7 linked regions of the Homo sapiens genome follow. The protein of the gene in region 4 purifies or fractionates together with the protein of the main gene of each other region. This does not show direct contact. Each region holds a gene or a part of one and is shown on either strand. Other genes may lie near its edges.

Evidence for each region.
Region 1: the proteins of CLEC4D (region 4) and RAB10 purify together in Homo sapiens (affinity purification with mass spectrometry, with the first as the bait; one large-scale study listed by BioGRID). This does not show direct contact.
Region 2: the proteins of CLEC4D (region 4) and AIF1L purify together in Homo sapiens (affinity purification with mass spectrometry, with the first as the bait; one large-scale study listed by BioGRID). This does not show direct contact.
Region 3: the proteins of CLEC4D (region 4) and MYO1D purify together in Homo sapiens (affinity purification with mass spectrometry, with the first as the bait; one large-scale study listed by BioGRID). This does not show direct contact.
Region 5: the proteins of CLEC4D (region 4) and ANXA5 purify together in Homo sapiens (affinity purification with mass spectrometry, with the first as the bait; one large-scale study listed by BioGRID). This does not show direct contact.
Region 6: the proteins of CLEC4D (region 4) and P4HA1 purify together in Homo sapiens (affinity purification with mass spectrometry, with the first as the bait; one large-scale study listed by BioGRID). This does not show direct contact.
Region 7: the proteins of CLEC4D (region 4) and GNG12 purify together in Homo sapiens (affinity purification with mass spectrometry, with the first as the bait; one large-scale study listed by BioGRID). This does not show direct contact.

The regions. Positions count from the first base shown.
Region 1 is NC_000002.12:26,121,084-26,124,583, forward strand, and holds part of RAB10 (ras-related protein Rab-10), read left to right. Parts: intron 1-3,500. UniProt on the Homo sapiens protein: The small GTPases Rab are key regulators of intracellular membrane trafficking, from the formation of transport vesicles to their fusion with membranes.
Region 2 is NC_000009.12:131,110,031-131,113,530, forward strand, and holds part of AIF1L (allograft inflammatory factor 1-like), read left to right. Parts: intron 1-1,566; coding exon 1,567-1,633; intron 1,634-3,500. UniProt on the Homo sapiens protein: Actin-binding protein that promotes actin bundling. May neither bind calcium nor depend on calcium for function.
Region 3 is NC_000017.11:32,758,625-32,762,124, reverse strand, and holds part of MYO1D (unconventional myosin-Id), read left to right. Parts: intron 1-1,497; coding exon 1,498-1,643; intron 1,644-1,720; coding exon 1,721-1,835; intron 1,836-1,998; coding exon of another isoform or gene 1,999-2,013; exon of another isoform or gene 2,014-2,313; intron 2,314-3,500. UniProt on the Homo sapiens protein: Unconventional myosin that functions as actin-based motor protein with ATPase activity. Plays a role in endosomal protein trafficking, and especially in the transfer of cargo proteins from early to recycling endosomes.
Region 4 is NC_000012.12:8,519,685-8,522,866, forward strand, and holds the end of CLEC4D (C-type lectin domain family 4 member D), read left to right. Parts: intron 1-541; coding exon 542-657; intron 658-1,439; coding exon 1,440-1,587; 3' UTR 1,588-2,682; downstream 2,683-3,182.
Region 5 is NC_000004.12:121,670,214-121,672,980, forward strand, and holds part of ANXA5 (annexin A5), read right to left. Parts: intron 2,414-2,767; coding exon 2,320-2,413; intron 1,430-2,319; coding exon 1,334-1,429; intron 1-1,333. UniProt on the Homo sapiens protein: This protein is an anticoagulant protein that acts as an indirect inhibitor of the thromboplastin-specific complex, which is involved in the blood coagulation cascade.
Region 6 is NC_000010.11:73,086,867-73,090,366, reverse strand, and holds part of P4HA1 (prolyl 4-hydroxylase subunit alpha-1 isoform 2 precursor), read left to right. Parts: intron 1-3,500. UniProt on the Homo sapiens protein: Catalyzes the post-translational formation of 4-hydroxyproline in -Xaa-Pro-Gly- sequences in collagens and other proteins.
Region 7 is NC_000001.11:67,826,968-67,830,467, reverse strand, and holds part of GNG12 (guanine nucleotide-binding protein G(I)/G(S)/G(O) subunit gamma-12), read left to right. Parts: intron 1-3,500. UniProt on the Homo sapiens protein: Guanine nucleotide-binding proteins (G proteins) are involved as a modulator or transducer in various transmembrane signaling systems.

The sequences.
Region 1 (3,500 bases), on a different chromosome or scaffold from region 4:
GTAATTTTAGTAGAGACAGGGTTTTGCCATATTGGCCAGGCTGGTCTCGAACCCCTGACCTCATGTGATCCACCCACCTCAGCCTCCCAAAGTGCTGGCTTTACAGGCGTGAGCCACCACATGCGGTATAATTTTTCTTTGTTAAGCTTGTGATTCTACTAAGGGTATCGTCCTTGCAACAAAAGAGTTGTTTCCTCCCTAATCCCACCTTTGTCTACCCCCTTTTAAACTGTCATTGACCCTTGAACTGCAGGTTCACTTACACATGGATATTTTTGTTTAAAGAGATGGGGACTCGCAGTGTTGCCCAGGCTGGTCTCAAACTCCAGGGGTCAAGTGATTCTTCCTTCTCAGCCTCCCAAGAAGCTGGGATTACAGGTGTGTGCCACCACACCCAGCTCTATAAACAGGTTTTTAAAAACAAATCTTTTGGAAAAAATGTTAGAGACTTGCAACAACTTGAAAAACTCACAGACAAGCCACATAACCTAGAAATATTGGGCGGGGGGGAAATTAAGAAAAAGTTAAGTATATTATGAATGTCTAAAGTATATGTAGATACTAGTCTATTTTATTACTACCATAAAACATACACAGATCTATTATTAAAAGTTTAAATTTATTAACACTCAAACACACAGAGCCCATACAAGGCACCTTTTGCATCAAGAGAAATGTAACAGAGATGCAGTATTAAATCATAATTGCATAAAAATAACTAATACATACTGTACTACTGTGATAATTTTGTAGCCACCTCCTGTTGCTATTTTGGTGAGCTCGTATGTTTCCAAGTGTCTGCTTAAAACACCATGTGATGTGGATCATCTCCCCGTGAACAGTTTGTGTCTCCAGTAAATCCCATATTGCAATCAAAAGAGGTCTTTTGTGGTTCTTGCGTGTTTTCATCGTGTCTAGTGCAATACCATAAACCTTGAATAACACCATCAGACCTATACAAAGTGCCACTAGTGATGCCAGAAGCAATCCTGAGAAACAGAAAAGTCATGACATTACAAGAAAAAATTGAATTGCTTAATATGTACTGTAGAATGAGGTCTGCAGCTGTGGTTGCCCGTTATTTCAAGATAAATTAATCCAGCATAAGGACCATTTTAAATAAAAGAAAATTTGTGAAGCCATCACTGCAGCCACAGCAGGAGGTGTGAAACCTTGCACTTTTTACAGAATACCTTTTTATCTCATGTTGAAAATGCAGCTCTTATGTGGGTACAGGATTGCTATAAGAAAGGCATACTTGTAGGCTGGGCGCGGTGGCTCACGCCTGTAATCCCAGCACTTTGGGAGGCCAAGGCGGGCAGATCACGAGGTCAGGAGATCGAGACCATCCTGGCTAACACGTTGAAACCCCGTCTCTACTGAAAATACAAAAAATTAGCCAGGCGTGGTGGCGGGCGCCTGTAGTCCCAGCCACTCGGGAGGCTGAGGCAGGAGAATGGTGTGAACCCGGGAGGCAGAGCTTGCAGTGAGCTGAGATCACACCACTGCACTCCAGCCTGGGCGACAGAGCGACTCTGTCTCAAAAAAAAAAACAAAAAAAAAGGGCATACTTGTAGACTATGATATTCAAGAAAAAGTGAAGTTATTATATGACAACTTAAAGCAAAACGGAAGAGAAGCTAGAGGAGTTAATGCCAGCAAAGAATGGTTTGATAATTTTAGAAAGAGGCTTGGCCTAAAAATGGCAGGCTAACAGGAGAAGCAGCTTCTGCTGACTAAGACACAGCAGACAAGTTCCTGGGCACCGCTGAACAAGTCTTTAATGCAGTTAAAAGTGTCCTATTCTCGGGGTGGCAGGGAGGGGGGCAGGCCACAAAGGACATGAGTGTTAGGAAAAGAAGAAAGCACAGGGAATTAAGGCAGGAAGGGATAGGCTAACTACTGTTCTGTGCAAATGCAATTGGGTTTATGATCAGGACTGACTGCCCTTACGTATAAAGTTGCTAACCCCCAAGACCTGAAGGGAAAAGTCTTTTGAAGCTGCCAGTTTTTTGATCATTCAACAAGAAGACCTGAACACTGAGAATCCTTTTTCTGGATTGGTTCCATCAATACTTTGTCCCTGAAATCAGGAAATACCTTGCCATTATGGGACAGCCCTTTAAAGTTCTTTTGATGTTGGACAGTGCCCCTGGCCACCCAGAACCCCATGAGTTTAACACCGAAAACATTGAAGTGGTCTACTTGCCCCCGAACACAGTCTCTAATTCAGCATCTAGATCAGGGGATCATGAGGACCTTTAAGGTTAATAACACACGGTACTCTAACCTCAATAGAACATCATGAAAATCTGGAGGAATTACACCGCTGAAGATGCCATCGTTATAGAAAAAGCCATGAAAGCCATCAAGCACAAAACAGTAACTTCCTGCTGGAGAAAACTGTGTACCGATGTTGAGCATGATTTCACAGGATTTGTAGCAGAGCCAGTCAAGGAATTTATGAAAGAGACTGTGGATAAGACAAGAGCTAATAGACATCAACCAGAGGAATCAACAGAAGATGATTTAATGAAGATGCCGGTGCTTCCAAACCAGCGTTGGACGATAAGGAAGAAGGCAAAGAAGTAGTGCCAGAAAACAAATTGACTGTAGACAATCTGGCAGAAGGGTTCTGATTATTCAAGACTGCTTTAGACTTACTGTACAACATGGACCATTGTGTGATACAGGCACTGAAACTGAAGCAAATGATGAAAGAAGGATTGGTTTTGTATAGAAATATTTTTAAAGAAATGAAAAAGCAAAAAAGAAATTACAATGTTTTTCCGTAAAGTTAAACTGAGTGTGCCTGCCTCCCCTTCCACCTTCTCTACCTCTTCTGCCTCTGCCTTCCCTGAGACAGCAAGACCAACCCCCTCCTCTTTCTCCTCCTCAGCCTACTCAATTTGAAGACATTGAGGATGAAGACCTTTATGATGATCCACTTCCACTTAATGAATAGTAAATATATTTTTCTTCCTTATGATTTTCTTAATAACATTTTCTTTTCTCTAACTTTATGGTAAGAATACAGTATAGAATACATATATAAAATATGTTAATCGACTGTTACTGATAATACTTCTGGTTAGCATCAGGCTGTTACTAATTAAGTGTTTGGGGAGTAAAAGTTATACATGGTATACCCTTACCCCCATTGTTCAAGGGTCAACTGTATGTTGTTTTAAATCAGCATATTTTATAACTTTCCTAGTTTTTTTTTTTCTTATAGCTACAGGAAATGAAGTAACCGCAGCCATTTGGCAGTTTTGTTGCTGTTGTTTTTCTTATTGTTGTTGTTGCTTTTTTTTTTTTTTTTTTTTTTTTTTTTGAGACAGGTTCTTGCTTTGTTGCCCTGGCTGGAGTGCAGTGGCAGTGATAATAGTTCACTCCAGCCTTGAGCTCTTGGGCTCAAGTGCTCCTCCTGCCTCAGCTTCTTAAAGTGTTGGGATTACAGGCATGAGCCCCCGTGCTCAGCCTATTGTTGTTTTTGAATA
Region 2 (3,500 bases), on a different chromosome or scaffold from region 4:
GAAACCCTGTCTCTACAAAAAATACAAAAATAAGCCAGCCGTGGTGTGGCGCCCATCTGTAGTCCCAGCTACTCAGGAGGCTGAGGTGGGAGGATCACTTGAGATCGGGAGGCGGAGGTTACAGTGAGCTGAGATTGCATCACTGCATTCCAGCCTGGATGACAGAGCAAGACCCTGTTTCAAAATAATAATAACAATAGCTCCCTCTTGGGACTCCTAGGAGATGTGAAGAGATCACATAGGTAAGGGCTTCACCCTGGAGGCCATTGTTAGTGTCCAATCCTCCCCACCCTGCCCATCTGGTCCTGAAAGGACTCATTTGAGTCTCTCCAAGCATCTGAAGGGAAGGCAGGCCAGAGATTAAAACCCCCATTTTACAGGTGAGGAAACAGGTGAGAGGGTAAGTGTACAGTCATTTTCCCGTTAGAGCAGAGACGACGAATTCACACTCTCACTGGATTTCTTTTTTCTTTTCTTTTTTTTTTTTTTTTAAGATGGAGTCTCTCTCTGTCTCCCAGGCTGGAGTACAGTGGCATGATCTCAGCTCACTGCAACCTCCACCTCCCAGGTTTAAGCTATTCTCCTGCCTCAGCCTCCCAAGTAGCTGGGATCACAGGTGCCCACCTCTATGCCCAACTAATTTTTGTATTTTTATAGAGACGGGGTTTCACTATGTTGGCCAGGCTGGTCTCGAGCCCCTGACCTCAGGTGATCGGCCCACCTTGGCCTCCCAAAATGCTGGGATTACAGGCGTGAACCGCCGCACCTGGCCTCACTGGATTTCTATACAAACTCAAGAAGCAGATCATGATTCTCATTTGGTAGATAAGGCAATAGAAGTGTGGGGAGGGCCGGGCGCGGTGGCTCACACCTGTAATCCCAGCACTTTGGGAGTCTGAGGCGGAGGGGTGGGAGCGGGGGGATCAACTGAGGTCAGGAGTTCGAGACCAGCCTGGCCAACATGGTGAAACCCCGTCTCTACTAAAAATACAAAAATTAGCTGGGCATGGTGGCAGGCGCCTGTAATCCCAGCTACTGGGGAGGCTGAGGCAGGAGAATCGCTTGAACCCAGGAGGTGGAGGTTGCAGTGAGCTGAGATCGCGCCATTGCACACCAGCCTGGGGGACAAGAGCAAGACTTCTTAAAAAAAAAAAAAAAAAAGTGCACGGAGGAATGAATGAGCTCAGGATCACATTCCTAAGAAGTTAATGATGGAACCAGGGGCTTGTCTTTGGAGCTCACAGCTTCTCGGATCTGAAGCTGGGGTGTCTTGGGGGAGGGGCACGGGTCCCAGCATTGGTAATGTAGCTGCTGGCTGGAGGGCTTAGTCACCCGTAGTGAACCCTCTGGGGCCTCCCCAAGCTGCTGGGCAAACTTCCTACCCACAGGGTGGCCAGTGCAGATCTGCCTCCAAGGGGCGACAGGAAGCCGGGGTGAACAAGGGACAAACTGGGTCTGGTCGCACCTGGTTACCCGATAGGAGGGAAGGCCCCCGGACAGTGGGCCCATGTGTGGGTGACTTCTGTCCCCAGTCCCTTGCTCAGCACTGTCCTCTCACCTCTGTAGGAGTTTCTGTGTGACCAGAAGTACAGTGATGAAGAGAACCTTCCAGAAAAGCTCACAGCCTTCAAAGGTAAGCTGGGGCGGGCTGCCCTGCATTTATTCCTGGGGGAGGTGGGCTGGCCCCTCATCCTTGCACACAGGACCCCTCAGCCCCACAGGACTAGGCTGTGGCCCTGTTTTGTCCAGAATGCCCTTCTTCCTGGAGAAGGCTTGGAGACAGGGACCCCCTGAGAGGTGGGGAGAGGCCCCTCCACCTGCCTCCCTGCCCCTGCGGGCCCCGTCACCCCTCGCCTGCAGCCCGGTCCTGGCCCTGCCCCTCTCTCTCCCCTCACTGCCCACGGGGCTCAGGCTGGTTCCCGTCCGCCGCTGCCCAGGCCCCGTCACTCCCGGGCCCCGCACACAATCAGCTCTTTGTGAGCAAGCCTTGCCTCTCCCCCTCCCCAGCAGAGCGTCTCAGGAGCCCCTGCGGAGAATGGACGTTTGTGTCACCGCAGTGGGGCAGGGGGGCAGAGTTTCTGCCCATTGAAACCCGGCAGCACGGGATGAAAAGAAAGCAGGGCCTGGGAGCCGGCGCGGGGAGAGGGGCAGCATAAAGGTCCCTCTGTTTGGGGCCCTGGCGCTTGGTTCCCAGCCAGCACCTCGAAAGGAGAGGAGCCGGGCACATAGGGGGCAGCGCAGACCCACCTTCCCTGCCAGGGGAGGCACTTAGGCGCAGGAGCCCTGGGCTGTCATGGAAAATATCCTGGAGGTTGCATTCCCCTCCAAAGTGTTTGCAGTGTGAGCATCCTCCCGGCTCCAGGGCAAAGAACTTGGCCAAGTGTTCCTCAAATCACTTCCAGTTGTCCTTAGGCTGGACATCTAGGGCTAATCATATTAATAACAGCTGGCATTTGTTGGACGTCGGCCTGTGTGAAGCACTTCTCGTGCGGCGTGGCGAGCTCCCCACATCACCCCAATCGGCCTGGAGGAAGATGGCGCACTTGTTAATGTGCAGATGGAGAAACTCGGGCTTGGAGGGCGGGGTTGTTGGCATGGGGACACATAGCTCGCCTAGGGCAGAGTTGGGACTTGAACTCATGTCGGTCTGGCTCCAAAGCCCCTGCTCTCAACTGTTACGCTATGATGCTTTTTACATGAAGAAGAGAGAAGGGAAATAGTAAAAGACACTCCTGACCCCACCCCATCCCAGCCACCTGTAGGAGAGCTGTGAAAAAGAGAGCAGTCTATTCCCTTCTGTCTGCATACCAGCGTGGCCACTCCCAGGGGTGGCTCTGGGAGGAGGCACGGGTCTCAGGGCTCTGGCACCCTTTCTACTTGTCTTCACTGGAATGTTGGGCCAGACAGGAAGTTACATCATTCACTCATTTGTTCTCCAAATGCGCACCTGTACATGTGCCAGGACCATTCCAGGCCAGGGGCACCATGGTGAACGTAAAAGGCAGCTCCCACCCGGGAGCCTGTGTTCTCGCTCGGGGGGCGGTGTGAGAGGTGGTGGGAGACTAAACAGAGAGCCGGGAAATACAAGGTTAGCAGACTGTGGTAGGTGCTTCAGTGAGAAATGAGGGAGGGAGGACAGGAGTGCTCAGCTGTGGGGAGGGGGTGCAATTTTGAAAGGGTGGGGAGGCCAGGCACGGTGGCTCACACCTGTAATCCCAGCACTTTGGGAGGCCGAGGTGGGTGGATCACCTGAGGTCGGGAGTCCAAGACCAGCCCGGCCAACATGGCGAAACCCCATCTCTATTAAAAATACAAAAATTAGCTGTATGTGGTGGTGGGTGCCTGTAATGCCAGCTACTCGGGAGGCTGAGACAGGAGGATTGCTTGAACCCAGGAGGCAGAGGTTGCAGTGAGCTGAGATCAAGCCACTGCACTCAAGCCTTGGTGACAGAATGAGACTCCATCTCAAAAAAAAAAAAAAAAAAAAAAAGCATAATGGT
Region 3 (3,500 bases), on a different chromosome or scaffold from region 4:
CAAGTATCACTTTCCCAGAGAGGCCTTCCCTAACCTTCCTGAGCACTGCATAGATTAAATTTCCCTAAGACCCCATGTACCTCTCCTTTAGTGTGGATGTTTATCTGCGAGGTGGGGGGCAAGTGAGAGAGACAGAGAGAATAATTTTTTCCTTCACTCTATTCCCTAAGTTTCTTGGACATTGAGACTATGTTTGTGTTTGCCTAGACCTGTATCTCTAACAAACTATATATAATAAGTATTCAGCAAATATTTGTTGAATAAATCAGTGAATTTCTAAGTGGTGCTATTTATTTGTGGCTAAAAGTAGGATAGGAACAGTTGTTGGAAGAGGAAAGATCAAGAGTCCTTTGAGTTTGAGATGGCTGTGAGCCATTGAAGAGTCAGTGTCAGGTAGACAGTCAAGCTCTTGAGTCAGGAGCTCAGAGACTGTTCTCTGAGTCTGGATTTGGATAATACTTTTGGGAGTCATATTATATTTGTATTATTTAATCCTGGGTGAGATGATTTAGAAGGTGCTAGAGAGTGAAGAGAAGAGGACCAGGAAGAACTCCAACTTTTACAAGTCAGGTAGAAGAGGAGACTCTACCAAAGGTCACCAAAAAGGAACATCCAGTGAACAAAGAGTAAAATTCAGAAAGGCTATTATCCGAAATCCAGAGAGAAGAGTGTTCCAAGAAGGCAGTGAAAACCTAGGTTGAGTGATGCTGAGCGACAGAGCAAGATGTCCATATGAGGTACGAGAAGTATCTATGTAGAGGTGCTGGGAGTCTTTGATGAGCCATTTCAATGGAGTAATAGGATGTAAGTGGAGACTGGAGTGGATTGAAGAGTAAAGGGGAGGTAATGGATATGGGTGAAGAGAGTGGGTAGCTGGCAGGAGACGTTAAGGAAGGTTTTCTAACGATGTGACGTTGCAGAGCACATGTGTATCGGGATGTGAATGTGTGTTAGCGTGTGGCACCTTTGTCCATGTGTGGCTTAGTGTGTGTGTTCTTGTGCATTGGATGTGTGTTCGATTCTCAGGGAATTTCAACCCTTGATCTTTGGCTCAGATCTTCATTTAGCATTAGAAATCAATATTTATATTTTTTAGAATTCATATAGCTTTAGTGGATCATAGATATTAACTCACTAGCTCTCAACTCTTTATAGTTGATGAAATTAATAATAAAGCAATGAACTGGCTTATTCAAGGGATCAGGCAAACTATTGATATAGCCGGGCAGGGAAACATGCCTGGAGAGTGTCGTTGGAATTGGTATAATGACCGGTAATAATCTTTTAAAAATACAAGCTATTTACTTTAGTTTTGCATACATCAGGTAGTTTGGGTTTTTTTAAATGGACAGTCTACATTTTCATTTGTTCTGCTGAGGCCAGTAATGGCTATGCTAAACAGTGAGAAGGTGGACAGGAATTTAAAACTGATCACAAATCCAAACAGAGGACTCATTCCCAAATTGGCAAGCATTTATGATGCTATTTTCCTTGCAGGCAATATATGAGCGCCTTTTTTGTTGGATCGTTACTCGCATCAATGATATTATTGAGGTCAAGAACTATGACACCACAATCCATGGGAAAAACACTGTTATTGGTGTCTTGGATATCTATGGCTTTGAAATCTTTGACAACAACAGGTAAACTGGAAAAGATACTTAAAACCTTGTTGCCTGTTTTCTATTTGTTGAAACTTAATTTATTCCTTTTCTTGTAGTTTTGAACAATTCTGTATCAATTACTGCAATGAGAAACTGCAGCAGCTATTTATTCAGCTGGTTCTGAAGCAAGAACAAGAGGAATACCAGCGGGAAGGGATCCCCTGGAAACATGTGAGTGGACTCTTATGGAAAATGCCTTCATGTGTTTCTCATATTATTGATAATGTCAAATTTTATTTTAGGTATTTCTTGATCTTTTGGGGGTATTTGAAACATCTGAACCTTAGCTTTCCTTTTTGGGATATGTAAATACAATTAATTTCATCATTTTTAGGTGGGATTGCTATAATTTGATAGACTGCCTTGTTGATGCCCAGAACATCCTGAGTTAGAACCAGTAAACCTGTTTTCACTTTATGGCTGCTACCACGTGGACTTACTGGTTTATATCTGTCTGTTAGGTTTAGCATACTTTATTAAGTTATACCTTAAATTGGCTGAACTTTGCTTCAGAATCTAGTTTCTTCTTCCCTTTTTCCTCCTTTTTCTCCTCTTCTACTTTGTAGACTATATGGTATTTTATTGTCTTCAGTTAATGTTGTTTATATTCTCTGAAACCTACACATTAAAATACTTGTTTTACTTTGCATTTTCTTGTGTATTACACTTCAATTATCACCTCTACTCTAATCAATCTTTGGGAACTTTTGTATTTGTCAGAGGCAAACTAATCTGGTAAGATATAGCTGGAAAGTATAATGGGTGCACAGTGCAAACCACAGAGATCAAAGCTAAAAGGCATGACTTGTTTGGTTTTTAAATTTCCTGTGATAAGACCTTCTGTTTATGATAGAAATGAGACATAGTAATTTTTCTTGTAAGTTTGTATTTTTAAGCAATTTTGAGAATAAACTTGAAAAATACAAAAACTTTTAAGTTTCTGTAGTTTGAGTTTATATGATTGTTCATCCTCTTGCCAGAGAATAGAAATGAAGCCAGTATTTGTTTTTTGTTATCCAATATAATAGCAGCAAAAAAATATTTGAAATACTATATTTAAATGACTTTTATCTTCCTTCCTACCTATTTTCTATTTCCTCTCATTCTGAAATAAAGAGACAGTGATATAACAAATAGCTTTCCCGCCTCAAAATTGTATCTGCCTTCCATCATGTGTTAAACGTTAGAATACCATAAAACAGTTGCTCAGGTATATTGGCATAAATTTTACCTATCTGCATATAAACCAAAGGGCTATTTTATATAAGAATTATCTATAGTTTGACTTAAATAATGAACTCTCCTAATACAATTAAAATTTAATTCAGTTCAATTAAGTGTATATGAAGCTTTCTAAGAATGAAACTGTTGTATAATATAATACACGGTATAACTGAAGCTTGGATTTTTAATACCAAATTTAATCATAAAACTTGTTATTCAAATGTGATTCCAAGGTACTAGTCAAAAATATCCTTTCACAATCAGAATATCAAATTTCACAGACATAATTGACAACAGGGTAAGTAATGCAGTGGACTGTTCCAAACATCTCAAAAAGAATTAAGAATCCCAAAATGCAAAAAATTTTCGCTAAATAAACCAAGAACTATTTGTCCTAGAGGGAGCAGAAGGCTAACTCCAAGGTAACAGTTACTTACTACATGGCAGATCCCCCCACAATTAGAATCTCTATTCTGGGTAAAACCCCAAACTTCTAAACATAGTGATTCTTTTTAAAAGATTTTTTATTATGGAAAATTTTAAACACACATTAAGAAGACAGACTATAGTACAGTAAACCCTATATACCCATCACCTGGCTTTAACACGTAC
Region 4 (3,182 bases):
ATGTATGGATCTAATGATAAGTAAAGAAATCTTAGGGTAAATTCTTTAAAGGCTAAAATTTATTTCCTCATGTAATATGTTTCCATTTATGTACCATGACTCAGATTCTAACTTTTTCTTGGTTAATAGTTTCCTCAAGGATTTTGTCTCCATAGGTTTACAATGTATAGGTTCGGTAATTCTGAATAAAATGGAATTTAATGAAATATGCACGCAATTAAAGAAGATATTAAAAACAAAACCTCCTAAAAAATCTAATCTTATTAAGCATTGTGCTAAAAGGGTTGCAAGTCTGACCTCACTTAATCTTCCTAGTAACTCTATAAAGTAGTGGAGTTGTCCCTTTTGAAGACAAGAGCACTGGGGGTTTGGTAAGATTGAAGCACTTACTAACATTACAGGCAGGATTTGAAAACAGATCTATCTGATGCCAGAGCTTTTGTGCTTAACCAGTAATCTAGTTGACATATTTCCTCTTTTTCCAACATCATAGCCATCACCTGATTCATGCAACTATATTAAAATTTACATTTTTATGCAGAACTTTATTATTCAGTTTCTGGATAGACGGCTTTCCTATTTCCTTGGACTTAGAGATGAGAATGCCAAAGGTCAGTGGCGTTGGGTGGACCAGACGCCATTTAACCCACGCAGAGTGTAAGTATATTGAGTGGGCTAAGGGGATTTATAAGCAAAGGTTAGAAGATGGTAGCAAGAAACATTCATTTTGAAGTGGAGTACATTGATATAAAAATGTTAAGAGAGACCACTGTAGGTTGAGTAATCTCCATATGCTATGTCCCAGTTCCAGAATGGTCCTATAATTTGCATGCAATTTTCAGTATTCTTATTTGCACAATGTCAATAATGAAAGAATGAATAGCATAGAAGTGATATAAAATTTGTTTTAGGCTTGACATTTAAATAAACAATATAAGCGATAAAAATTTTCTTTGAAAGAGAATCAAAATCTTGTCATTTTCTTTCTTGAAGCCAGTATCGTTTAGTAAAAATATAATGCAAAGCCACATGTGCAATTTAAAATTTTTTGTTAGTTATATTAAGAAAGTAAAAAGAAGCAAGTGAAATGTATTTTAATAACGTATTAATAATGTATTTAACCCAATATATCCAAATCTTATCATTTCAACATGTGATCATTATAAAATTATTACTGAGGTCTTTGACATTCTTCATTGGCACTAAGTCTTCAAAATACAGCACTTAAGACTTAAAGCACATTTCAATTCAGAGAAGCCACATTTCAAGTGCTCAGTAGCTACATGTGTCTAGTGAGTATAGTATTAGTGCAGTTCTAAACTGTTCACTAGGGACATTTCTCTGAATTGTCTCCTAATATATCTATATCTAATCTACACCTATAATCTACATTGTCTATATATACCTATAAATCTCTATCTATGTTGTTGTTCTTTCAGATTCTGGCATAAGAATGAACCCGACAACTCTCAGGGAGAAAACTGTGTTGTTCTTGTTTATAACCAAGATAAATGGGCCTGGAATGATGTTCCTTGTAACTTTGAAGCAAGTAGGATTTGTAAAATACCTGGAACAACATTGAACTAGAAACTCAGAAAGTGGTCCTTGTGATGGAAAGAGAAAAGAAAAACCAATTAGAATAAGGCAGAATGTACGTGCGTCATTGGAACACAGAAAACATGCTGGTTCATACAGCGTTTTTAGTCATAATGGTCTTTTTTATTTTGTTTGATTCATTCGAGACAACATGTGTGTATGTGTGTGTGTGTGTGTGTAGATAATGTGGTTTTTGTATGGTGTTTGATGGAAGGAATAATCTTTCTTTGCTTTCTTAGTAGTATTTCAAGGTGTTTACTTTTCAATTGGTGTGCACTGAATGCATGTATGGAAGAATAGCGTGAATAATGCAATCTCTTTGTCATTTTTCCCCTTCTCAGACTCTTAGCTCTTAAAATTCAAAGATGGGATATTCTAACTGGTAGTGGTGCATCATTTTTAACCCAAATATTGCAAGCACTTTAAAGATTTGAAACCACATTTTTATTGTTTGATGTTTCATTTTCAGACTTTTTAATGTCAGTCATTACAATTACATTGCATGAGGAAAATTTTTCCAGAACAACAGTGTGGAATAGTTCTGAATTATGCTGTTCTACAGATAGAAAAAAAGTCCAAATGCCTTTAAAAATTTACTTCTTACTCCACCCAACACGTTTTTGCAAAGCAAGAAGTCTTTGTAAGACACCTTAAACAAAGTCCTTCAATTCTACAGCAGAGGAAATAAAATCCCCCAGAAGCCAAAGGGCTCACCTTCACATTGTTAGTTCATGACAGACCCAGGTGTGCTTCATTAGAGATAACATACATTCCCTTTGGTATCACAGGAAGTTACTGGGGATTACTCGACCTCATTACTTAGCTAACGACTGGATAAAATTTCTTAATTGTTTGAAGTAACATTGTATTCGTGTTTGCATTATTAATTTGAATAGAAAATAATCACATTTTCAACCCATTTATACAAATTGTTAATGTTTCTTTAGAGCTGTATAACTATAGTTTGAACTAGCAAGGAAGTTATTGTTTTGACAACCAGAAATTATGCTTTTCTGGTGCATGAAACATTAATTGCAAAGGGCAGTCACATCCAACTTTAATAAAATATGGTGGTCTTTCTTAAAATTTTCAATTTGCTAATTTTTCCTGGATCTAAGCTGAAAAATTCCAAGCAACAGCTTTTTAACCTAACTTTCCTACTACTGCTTTTAAAAGCAGTATTTATTTTGTAAATTAGCTACTGATTTTTTGGGTTTGAAATACTGGTGTTTGATTGTGTGGTGGTGGTGGTGGTGATGGATGCGTGTAGCTGTGTTAAAAGCTGATACTTTTAGCTGAAATGGTGCTAAATAAATTTGACTGTGTTTGCCATATTCACTAAATTATGTAGCATGAAACCTATGAAACTTGTTGAAGTAACTTTATGTAAATGCTAGTGGGCTTCGTATAGTTAATATTATCCATTTTTAATTTGTAAAGAACTATATATAGGTTGAGCTTCAGTTGTCAATAAGTCATGAAGTTTTGCCCATGCCTGTGTCCTGAATGGTATTACCTAGGTTTTCTTCTAGGGTTTTTACGGTTTTGGGTTTTACATTTAAGTCTTTAATCCATCTTGAGTTAAT
Region 5 (2,767 bases), on a different chromosome or scaffold from region 4:
TTCTGAGGTCTGCATAGAAAGGCATGGAGAATAAGGGCACAGGTTTTTCTATGCGCCTTGGTTCTGTGAAGACTTTTTGGATACTGCAGTTTGGGCAGCCTGGATTGTTATCATAATACCACAACATTCTTCATCACCAATAAATTACACAAATCCCTTGGAAGTTTTCATTCCAAGACATTAAAGCAAATAATACAAGATTACTACCTAATTTTTTTAAACTCTTGGGTGATCTTCCTATACTCTCTACATATTCTTTAATATCAATGATTCACACAGAGCAGCATGAGATTTATCCATTTCAGTACAAAAACAGATAAATCAATATCAGAAAGGATCTCTTCTCTGAACATGTACATGTTGAATGTAGGTTGGGGCTGCTCAGACCTCAGTCTGCTTAGCTTCAGAAAATCTATCATGAAAATTCCTTAATATACAAAAATAATCCTTGCATGTGGAGATTTCTTAATTCTCCCTTTTCTAAGTCTTAAGAAAAACAGCCACCAGTAACTGAAAATGTCTTAATTTGTATGCGTATTCTAATTATGAAGGACCTGTCTAAAAGTTTTCTGGTAAAAGTACATTAACTGTGTACTCAAGTGAAAGGCTACTTTTAGAGTTGGTTCATGCAGATCTTTAGCTTAGTCTCCTGAAGACAGAGAGCACAAAAGTGTGAGCTCAAGGCCAAATACTTGGAACAAACAGCAGACAGAGGCTCACTGCAGACCCATATGAACAAAAGGACCACAGGAGACTCACAAACTAGATTCTCCCTAGCTTTGGAGTACATAATACTGCAATCAACTGCACAGATTCAGTTCTCCAATTTTTCCAGATTATTCTGAATATTTAATTAAAATAAAACTAAATTATTTAATTTGAAAACAACCATCATCACATCTTCTATTACATCAAAGATATTCTTCTTTTCTAAACCAGATGACAATTTCTTAGTCTGCCTCAAAGCTGAGAGAACAGTATTCAAAAAAATTCTAAAATTCCACAGGTATCAGAAATAATGTTTACAAGCCTCTGAGATAATGTCCACGACATTTCAGGTTTATCAATAAATAATATTTTTAATGCAGCTTCAAAATGATTTTTAAACAATTATCTTAGTATTTCCATAGGATTTAGATGAACTAACCAGACAATCCTGTATTTCCAACATCAAAATAAATTTCTGAATTGGAAATTTGGGAGTTTGCTTCCCCTAAATATCATATCAAGCTCTTCCTTCACACCTAGGTGGTTATTTTCAGATGCAGCCTCAATTGAATAAAATGCTTTAGCTCTTACCACCAAAAATATCAATACATTGTAAATCACCTACCAACAGCAAGGAGTAGTTGCTCTAAATTGCCAGAAGTCTCGCGGTCAATGGTTTCCTCAATTTGAAATCCTGATATAGTCATGTACTTGTCAAACACTAGAAAAAATAAAAATGATTCCCTAATCATGTAGGGATCACTCTTTCCAGAAAGATGGTATTTACTTTGATTAGGTAGTGTCTTACTGAACACAAATCTCCCCTTCTTCCTTGCTGACAGAACCTTGTGCTCAAAGCCTCAATGTGCCAAGCCCTAAGCAATGGATTGTAAATATACTTTGTTCACTGATTGCCAGCCCCCTTACGAGTTATAGCCAATGAGACCTAAAGGTAAATCTACTGGAGGGGATGCTGAGAAATCTCCTCACTTACAAAAAGTGATACACAGATAGGACTAGTTTACCCTTTTCTTTCCTTCCTGCTGTGAAATGGTTAAGTTTGGAGCTAGAGCAGACATCTTATGATAATGAAGAAAGAAAACCAAAACACTAGGGATAATGGAGCAAAAAGAAAAACCAGAAAGATCTCAGGTCCTGCCAAATCAACCATGGAATCCCACCTCTGGAAAAAAAGCCCAATTTTTAAAGCCACTATTAGGGTTCTCTGTCACTTGCACTAAATTCATTCCCAACTGATACCACAAGTGCTGATGACTATCCAGAGATAAGGTCCTGGGTACCAACCTCTAGGAGGAAATACGTGTAGTGAGCCACTATTCAGTGATGTGTGACTATGAGAGGAACAATCTAGAGAACTGACCTCCCTTGCCATCCTCCAATAGTGAAGGGTGGACTCAGGATCTCTAGTTTGTAAAAGCTACAACAGCAGCAAAAACAATGTTGAGATTTCTCCAGGTCACCAAAAGGAAGAAATACAAAAACTGATTCATTCTCTAAGTCCCTGCTATGTAGCAGGTATTCTGTCACACTGGCTCATGCACTTTCCAAATTTACCAATGTATCTGCCCCATACAGATTTTTTTCACTCACCCTTTCTCAAATGAGACACACTTCGTGTTCCAAAGATGGTGATAAACTTTTCTTCATCTGTCCCCCATTTAAGTTCTCCAGCCTGAAATAAAGCCTGCAAAAATTTCAAACTCAATTAATAAATTGTTCCTCCATCTCATTTCCAGGTTCTTAAACACACTTGTTTTTTACTCCCTGAATTTTAACTCACTTGATTCATCATCTTGTATTAATAGTTTTCATTTCTAATGTGTCCTACTCTGAAACTCAGCTCACTGAGTTTGGAGCACCTTTGGAGCTTGCCACTGAACTGTGCCACAGAAGATTCATGGGTCCAAGCAACAAAGCACGGCAATGGTGCAAGGTTACATGTTCCCAAAATGTCTGCCATAACCTCCAATCTTTCAGAAGCAACAGTATGGGTCAGGAGAAAGTTATGACTACCTCACTGTTGATACATCCATGTATA
Region 6 (3,500 bases), on a different chromosome or scaffold from region 4:
AGCCCAGGAGTTCCAGACCAGCCTGGGCGACATAGAAAGACTTCATCTCTACACAAAATAAAATAACATTAGCTGGGTGTGATGGTGCCTGCCTGTAATCCTAGCTACTTGGGAGGCCGAGGCAGGAGGATTGCTTGAGCTGGGGAGGTTGAGTCTTCAATGAACTGTGATTGTGCTACTGTACTCCAGCCTGGTGACCGAAATGAGTCTCTGTCTCAAAAAAGAGTATACTTGGCCAGGCGCAGTGGCTCACACCTGTAATCCCAACACTCTGGGGGGCCGAGGCAGGAGGACTGCTTGAGCCCAGAAGTTCAAGACCAGCCTGCGCAACATGGTAAAACCCTGTCTCTACAAAAAAATTAAAAAGCCAGGTGTGGTGTTGTGTGCCTGCAGTCCCCGCTACTTGGGAGACTGAGGTGGGAGACTCACCCAAAGCCTGGAGATTAAGGCTGCGGTGAGCCAAGATCACGCTACTGCACTCTAGCCGGGGCATCGGCAGTATCCTTATGACTTTTTGTAATCCCTTCTTTTGCTCCTTACTACCCTCTCTGTATCCCTAGGAAACCATTGTTTCCTTTCTGTTGCTTAAGATTAGTTTTTATTTTCTAGAATTTTATAAAAATGGAATTGTATATACGCTTTTTTTTTTTTTTTTTAGCACGGGGAATCTCCTTACACTCAGCATAATTTGAGATTCATCCATGTTGTTATGTGTTCATAGTTTTTTATTGTTGAATAGTATTTTATTTTATGAATATACCATGATTTTTTTTAACCCATTTACCCTTTGATGGACATTTGGATTGTTTTCACTTTTTGACTATTATGAATAAAGCTGCTATGAGCATTCATGTACAAGTTGTTGGAGAGAGATATGCTTTCTTTTCTCTTATATTAATGCCTAGGAGTGCAATAGCTAGATGTGATAGGGAAATATTTTTTCCCAGTTGTTGGCTTGTCTTCATTCTTTAAACAGTGTGCTTCAAAGAGCAGTTTCTATTCACAGACAACATGTCTGTGACTCTTCAAAAAAGCTCTAGTGAATAGGTTAATTCAGCAGAGTTGTAGCTTAGAAGGTCAATATACAACAGTAAATTGTATTTCTATATACTAATAATGAACAATTAGAAACTAAAGTGAAAAATTCCCATCTCATTAGCACTAAAAACCATGAAATACTTAAGTATTAACTTTTCAAATGGTGTGTAATATTTGTATGTTGAAAATTATGAAACACTGATTATATCATGTTCATGGATTAGAAGACTCAGTATTAAGATACCTACTCTTCTCAAACTGATTTATAGATTCAGCACATTTCTAGTCCAAATCTCAGAGGATTTCTTATAGAAATTAATGAGCCGATTCTAAAATTAATATGGAAAACCAAAGGAACTAGAAAAGCTAAAACAATTTTGAAAAAGAATAACAAAGTTGGAAGATTCATACTACCTGATTTCAACTTAGTTTAAAGCTGCAATAACCAAGACTGTGGTATTGGAGAAAAGATAGACATACAGATCAATTGAACAAAATAGAGAATTTAGTCACACAAAAATTGTCAATTCATTTTGAAAAAGTTTAAGGGCAGTTCAACAGAGGATAGTCTGGAACAGTTGAATATTCATATGCAAAGAAAAAACAATCTTTGTTTTATTTGGGCACCAAGTATCCACTGTTGGACACTGGGCAGTCCCTTGCCCAGGAATTTATGTGAATATTGGGACAAGTGACATGAATCCACCAGTGGATATGAAATAAAGTTTAATCACACAGTAAACAGCAAAAGGACTCCTCAAGGTCAAGGACTTAGGTTTAGTCCAGGATGAAGCAAGAGTGAAACAGGGTGGGTGGCTTTGGTTTTTATTGACCAGAAGGTGGAACTTGTTTGATGGTCCCCATGTGTGGTATTTACATGGTTTCAACTTCACACCAGTACCAAGGGAGGGAATACTGGTCCCCAAGTGTGGTATTTATATGGTTTCAACTTTACACCAATACCAAGGGAGGGAGTACCTGGGCTTTCTTACAGACTTACCCAGATGTGGGACAAAAGGGAGAGAGGTGTGGGACCTGAAGGCAATCTGCACTCAAACATCAAAATGAAATCTTTTTATTAGAGCCTCAATCTGTACTTGACACTGTATGCAAAAATTAGTTCAAAATGGTTCGTAGGCCGGGTCTGGTCGCACACGTTTGTAATCCCAGCATTTTGGGAGGTTGAGGCAGGAGGATTGCTTGAGCCCAGGAGTTTGAGACTAGCCTTGGCAAGAGTGAGACCCGTTTCTATTTTAAAAAATGTTCATAGATTGTGAAGTAAAATGTACAGCTATAAAATATTTGAAAGAAAACATAGGACAAAAATATTTTTGACCATGGGTCAGGCAGAGATTTCTTGGACATGATGCCAAGAACATGATTCATAAATGAACAAACTGATAAATTAGACTTCATCAAAATTAAGAAATTCTGCTCTTCCAAACACACTGTTGAGAGAATAAAAAGACTTCACAGACTGGGAGAAAATATTCCCCATCACATATCTGACAAAAAATAGACTGTATAAGGAACTCAAAGCTGGGCATGGTGGCTCACGTCTGTAATCCCAGCACTTTGGGAGGCCAAGACTGGAGGATTGCTTGAAAATCCAGGAGTTTGAGACCAGCTTGGGCAACATAGCAAGACCCCATCTCTATTAAAAAAAGTAAACAACCTAATTAAAAAGAGCAAAAGATTTGAGTAGACACTATGCAGGAAGGTGTATGAACAGCAGATAAACACCCCAAAAGGTGTTAAACATAGGCCAGGCATGGTGGGTCATGCCTGTAATCCCAGCACTTTGGGAAGCTGAGGTGGGTGGACCATCTGAGGTCAGGAGTTCAAGACTAGCCCGGCCAACATAGCGAAACCGTCTCTACTAAAAATACAAAATTGGTCAGGTGTGGTGGCACGTGCCTGTAATCCCAGCTACCTAGGAGGCTGAGACACGAGAATCACTTGAACCCAGGAGGTGGAGGTTGCAGTGAGACAAGATTGTGCCACTGCATTCCAGCCTGGGCGACAGAGTGAGACTCTGTCTCAAAAAAAAAAAAAAAAAATAAAGGCATTAAACATCATTAGTAATTATGGAATTGCAAATTAAACCCATAATGAGATAGTACTATATGTCTATTGTGAAAATTAAGATATTAAGAGAAACTAAGGAAAAAACGGCAATACAAAATGCTGGTAAGAATGGGAGCAATGGAAACTTTCATCCTTTGCTGTTGGAAGGGCAAATAGTGTAGCTACTTTGGAGAAACGTTTGGCAGTTTTTTATGAAGGTAAATATATACTTGTCATATGACCCAACATTCCCGCTCCTAGGTATTTACCCAAGTGAAATGAGAACTTAGGTTGATTTCCTCTTTTTTTTTTTTTTTTTTTTTTTTTTGAGATGCACTCTCACTCTTTTACCCAGGCTGGAGTGCAGTGACACAATCTCGGCTCACTGCAACCTC
Region 7 (3,500 bases), on a different chromosome or scaffold from region 4:
CAAGGCCAACAGATAAGCCATAAGAAGTGTTAGGCTGATTGTGAGTCGTTGTTTTATTTGTAAACTTTCATGAGATTGGGTGTTCAGTTAATTCAGGAAATCTACTCATCACATTGTTGACTCATTTCCTAAAATCTAAAAAATTTTTTAAATGCCTTCATCTTGCCAGGCGCTGTGGCTCACACCTATAATCCCAGCACTTTGGGAGGCCAAGGTGGGCGGATCACCTGAGGTCGGGAGTTCAAGACCAGCCTGACCCACATGGAGAAACCCCATCTCTACTAAAAATACAAAATAAACCAGGCGTGATGGCGCATGCCTGAAGTCCCAGCTACTCGGGATGCTGAGGCAGGAGAATCACTTGAACCCAGGAGGCGGAGGTTGCGGTGAATCGAGATCGTGCCATTGCACTCCAGCCTGGGCAACAAGAGCAAAAACTCTGTCTCAAAAAAAAAAAAAAAAAAAGCCTCCATCTTTAAAACAAACCCTTTAAAGCTTCTTGTTTTTGTCCTAATGCACGTCAGGTGCACAGAATTGGGCTGAACCAGGATCTTAGCTCATGCCACAGATGATTTCTCATTTTACTAATTGCTCCACTGGGACACAGAGATGTGGTTTATAATAATTTTAAATAACTATAAAGGGTACAGTGTGATTATTAATTGTTTCTTGCCTATGACATTATGCTCTGAAACAACTGAAGCATTTGATTGAGTAAATTATTGATTCGTTTCACTCCTAGAACATAACATAATGATTTCTGGCTCATACTTCTAGGTGAGTAGACTGTGAGCAAGTTACTTAATCTATGCTTCAATAAGTGTTGTGAGGAATAAATGAGCTAATCTATGTATATAGCATTTGGAATAGTGCCTGGTGCATAGTCCACATTCAATAAATGTTAACATTAAATTATTGAAATTTTCTCTAAATGTTGTATAATGAGCATGCATTATTTTTGTAACAGGAAAACAGCTATACAAAATTTTAATATTTCCCCCAAATCTAAAAAAAGCTCAGTAATTTAAATAGTCCTGCCAAATAGTACTTAAAAAGTAAGAGAATTAGACAATCATCATTTTGTCTTTTAAATGTGAAATGGTTTGCAATATTAATTTGTTAAACAAGTTAATTCTTCCAAATCTCAATTCCATTTTCTTTTTTATTAGAGACTTTAAAAAATCAGTAATACATGAAGTCTGTTACAGTTTAAAATGGGGAAAAGCAGTATGCACAGTTACATTGTGTTATTACAATTACAGCTAGCTTAAAAATTATTTTTAAACCATAAGAAAAGCCTAGAAGAAAATACAGACAAATTGGTGATGGGATTATGGTGCTCTCCCACCCCCAACCTGCTTTTCCCCTATTTTCCACAATGCGCCTATATATATACTAAAATATAATTCATTTGTGTAATAGTTACTAAACAAATCTGGTTTATTAACTACAAATACTAAAAAAAATTTGCGTAATAGTTACTAAAAAACAAATCTGGCTTGTTAACTACAAATAGCAGGATTTTATTGTTGTTTTGGAAAAAGCACCAACTTTATGGCAGTTGAATGTCCTTCGGTTAAATGTCAAAACCTTTGCAGTGAGAATTGTTTAGCGGTAAAAGAGAAGGCCTTTCAGAAGCTTGTAGTTTGATCTTCATGAAGAATATTTGAAAAGTCTACCAGTGGGTTTTTAGGATCTGCATATAGACCTAGTCCACCAACCTTGACTTTATGGAAGTTGTGACTTCCCAGATCCAGGCCTGCCTTGATGAGCTGCGTTTTTACAGCACCTTCAGTATATCAGACACCTGGAAGACAGTAATGAGGCAGATATTGGTGCACTTAGTTTAACAGGAAGGTTGGATAGATAAAAACTAATTACAGCACAATTGTATATATTATATATCCTGAGCCCTTTCTAAACTCTTCCCGTATACAGTCTTGCTCAGTTGTCACAACAGCCCAGAGGAGGAAGCTGAGGTTCCTTAAAGGTCTGAACCTTGCTCAAGTTGCAAGGACAGAATTTGACCCAGAAGCATCTTAACTCCACATCTCATGCCCTCTGCACGGAGATGGAGGTGCATCCAGCCAGAGGTGAGAGTGAAGTGGGCTTTATGGAGTCAGTTTTGCTTAAAAACTATAAAACTAATCAAGAGAAACATGAGGAGGAGACTCCTTTTAGGTGACCTTCCTGAGGAGAATCATCAGTGCCTCTCCATCAGGCTTGCCACTCTTTAGCCATAGCAGTTAACACTTCCAAATGGCTGCTGAGACCCAGCAGGCCTGAAGCGCACACAAAGGCCCAGTCCTTGGTGACCCTGTGAAGCCTACCTCTTTCATCCCTGGACTTCCAAAGGGGGTCTGGATAGTACAGATGAAGGAACTGACTCGCTAAATCCTGTTCTAGAACCAGCACATACCCACAGATCCTGACCTCCCCACTTTCCTCCCTTAGGAATGACAGGAGAGTAGTTAACAGGTAGCATGGATCCAGGGCAGATGGTGGAGGTGACTTGACTTAAGATAACTTGTAGCTAGATTATTCCATTTATTGGAGAGTCTCTCTTGAAAATCATATCTGATGTCACTTAAGTGTTTGGTTTATCATGTTAGTCTTTATTGGGTGTCGTAAAAGTGCTCAGTTGTGAAGTGTCTGGTTACCATCCTGTGACAAGGAGGGTTTTTGTCTTCTTTTAATGGGTCTGCATTTCAGAGAATTACTGTATAATAAAAACTGGAGTGTTGGCTGGGTGCAGTCGCTCACGCCTGTAATCCCAGCACTTTGGGAGGCCGAGGCGGGTGGATCACAAGGTCAGGAGAGCGAGACCATCCTGGCTAACATGATGAAACCCCGTCTCTACTAAAAATACAAAAAATTAGCCGGGCGTGGTGGCGGTCGCCTGTAGTCCCAGCTACTTGGAAGGCTGAGGCAGGAAAATGGCGTGAACCTGGGAGGCAGAGCTTGCAGTGAGCCGAGATCGTGCCACTGTACTCAAGCCTGGGCAACAGAGCAAGATGCCATCTTAAAAAAATAAAAAAAAAAACTGGAGTGTTGGAGACTGTTAAGAATTAATACTTTCAGTTCTGCCAGAGGGTTAGTATCTAGAAGTTCTAAGAGATTGGTTGCTAAAATCTTCTGTAATTTTCAGTTTCATTGATTGTATAATAAGTGGGTGACTTTGGGCCCAGAGAGTCAGAAGGCTTTGTATTCTGTATGCTTTCTGACACAGTAGGCCACCACTCCCCTTGCAGGCAAGGTCATGTAATTGACATAGGATCCCCTTTAGTTGACCGAAGAGAGAAGTATAAGCTCTGGTTGAACTTGAGTTTGCGTGATCACACATGCTCACTGGAGTGAAGTCTGAATCAGTTGCCATCTCTGCACTTGCATTGTGTGTAGAGAATTGTCTTGATTCAGAATGGCTTTGTGCAAACTCACATGAGCCCATTGGAGGCAGAATCTTAACTTCATTGATGTGAAATAATCAGGCTTTTATTTAG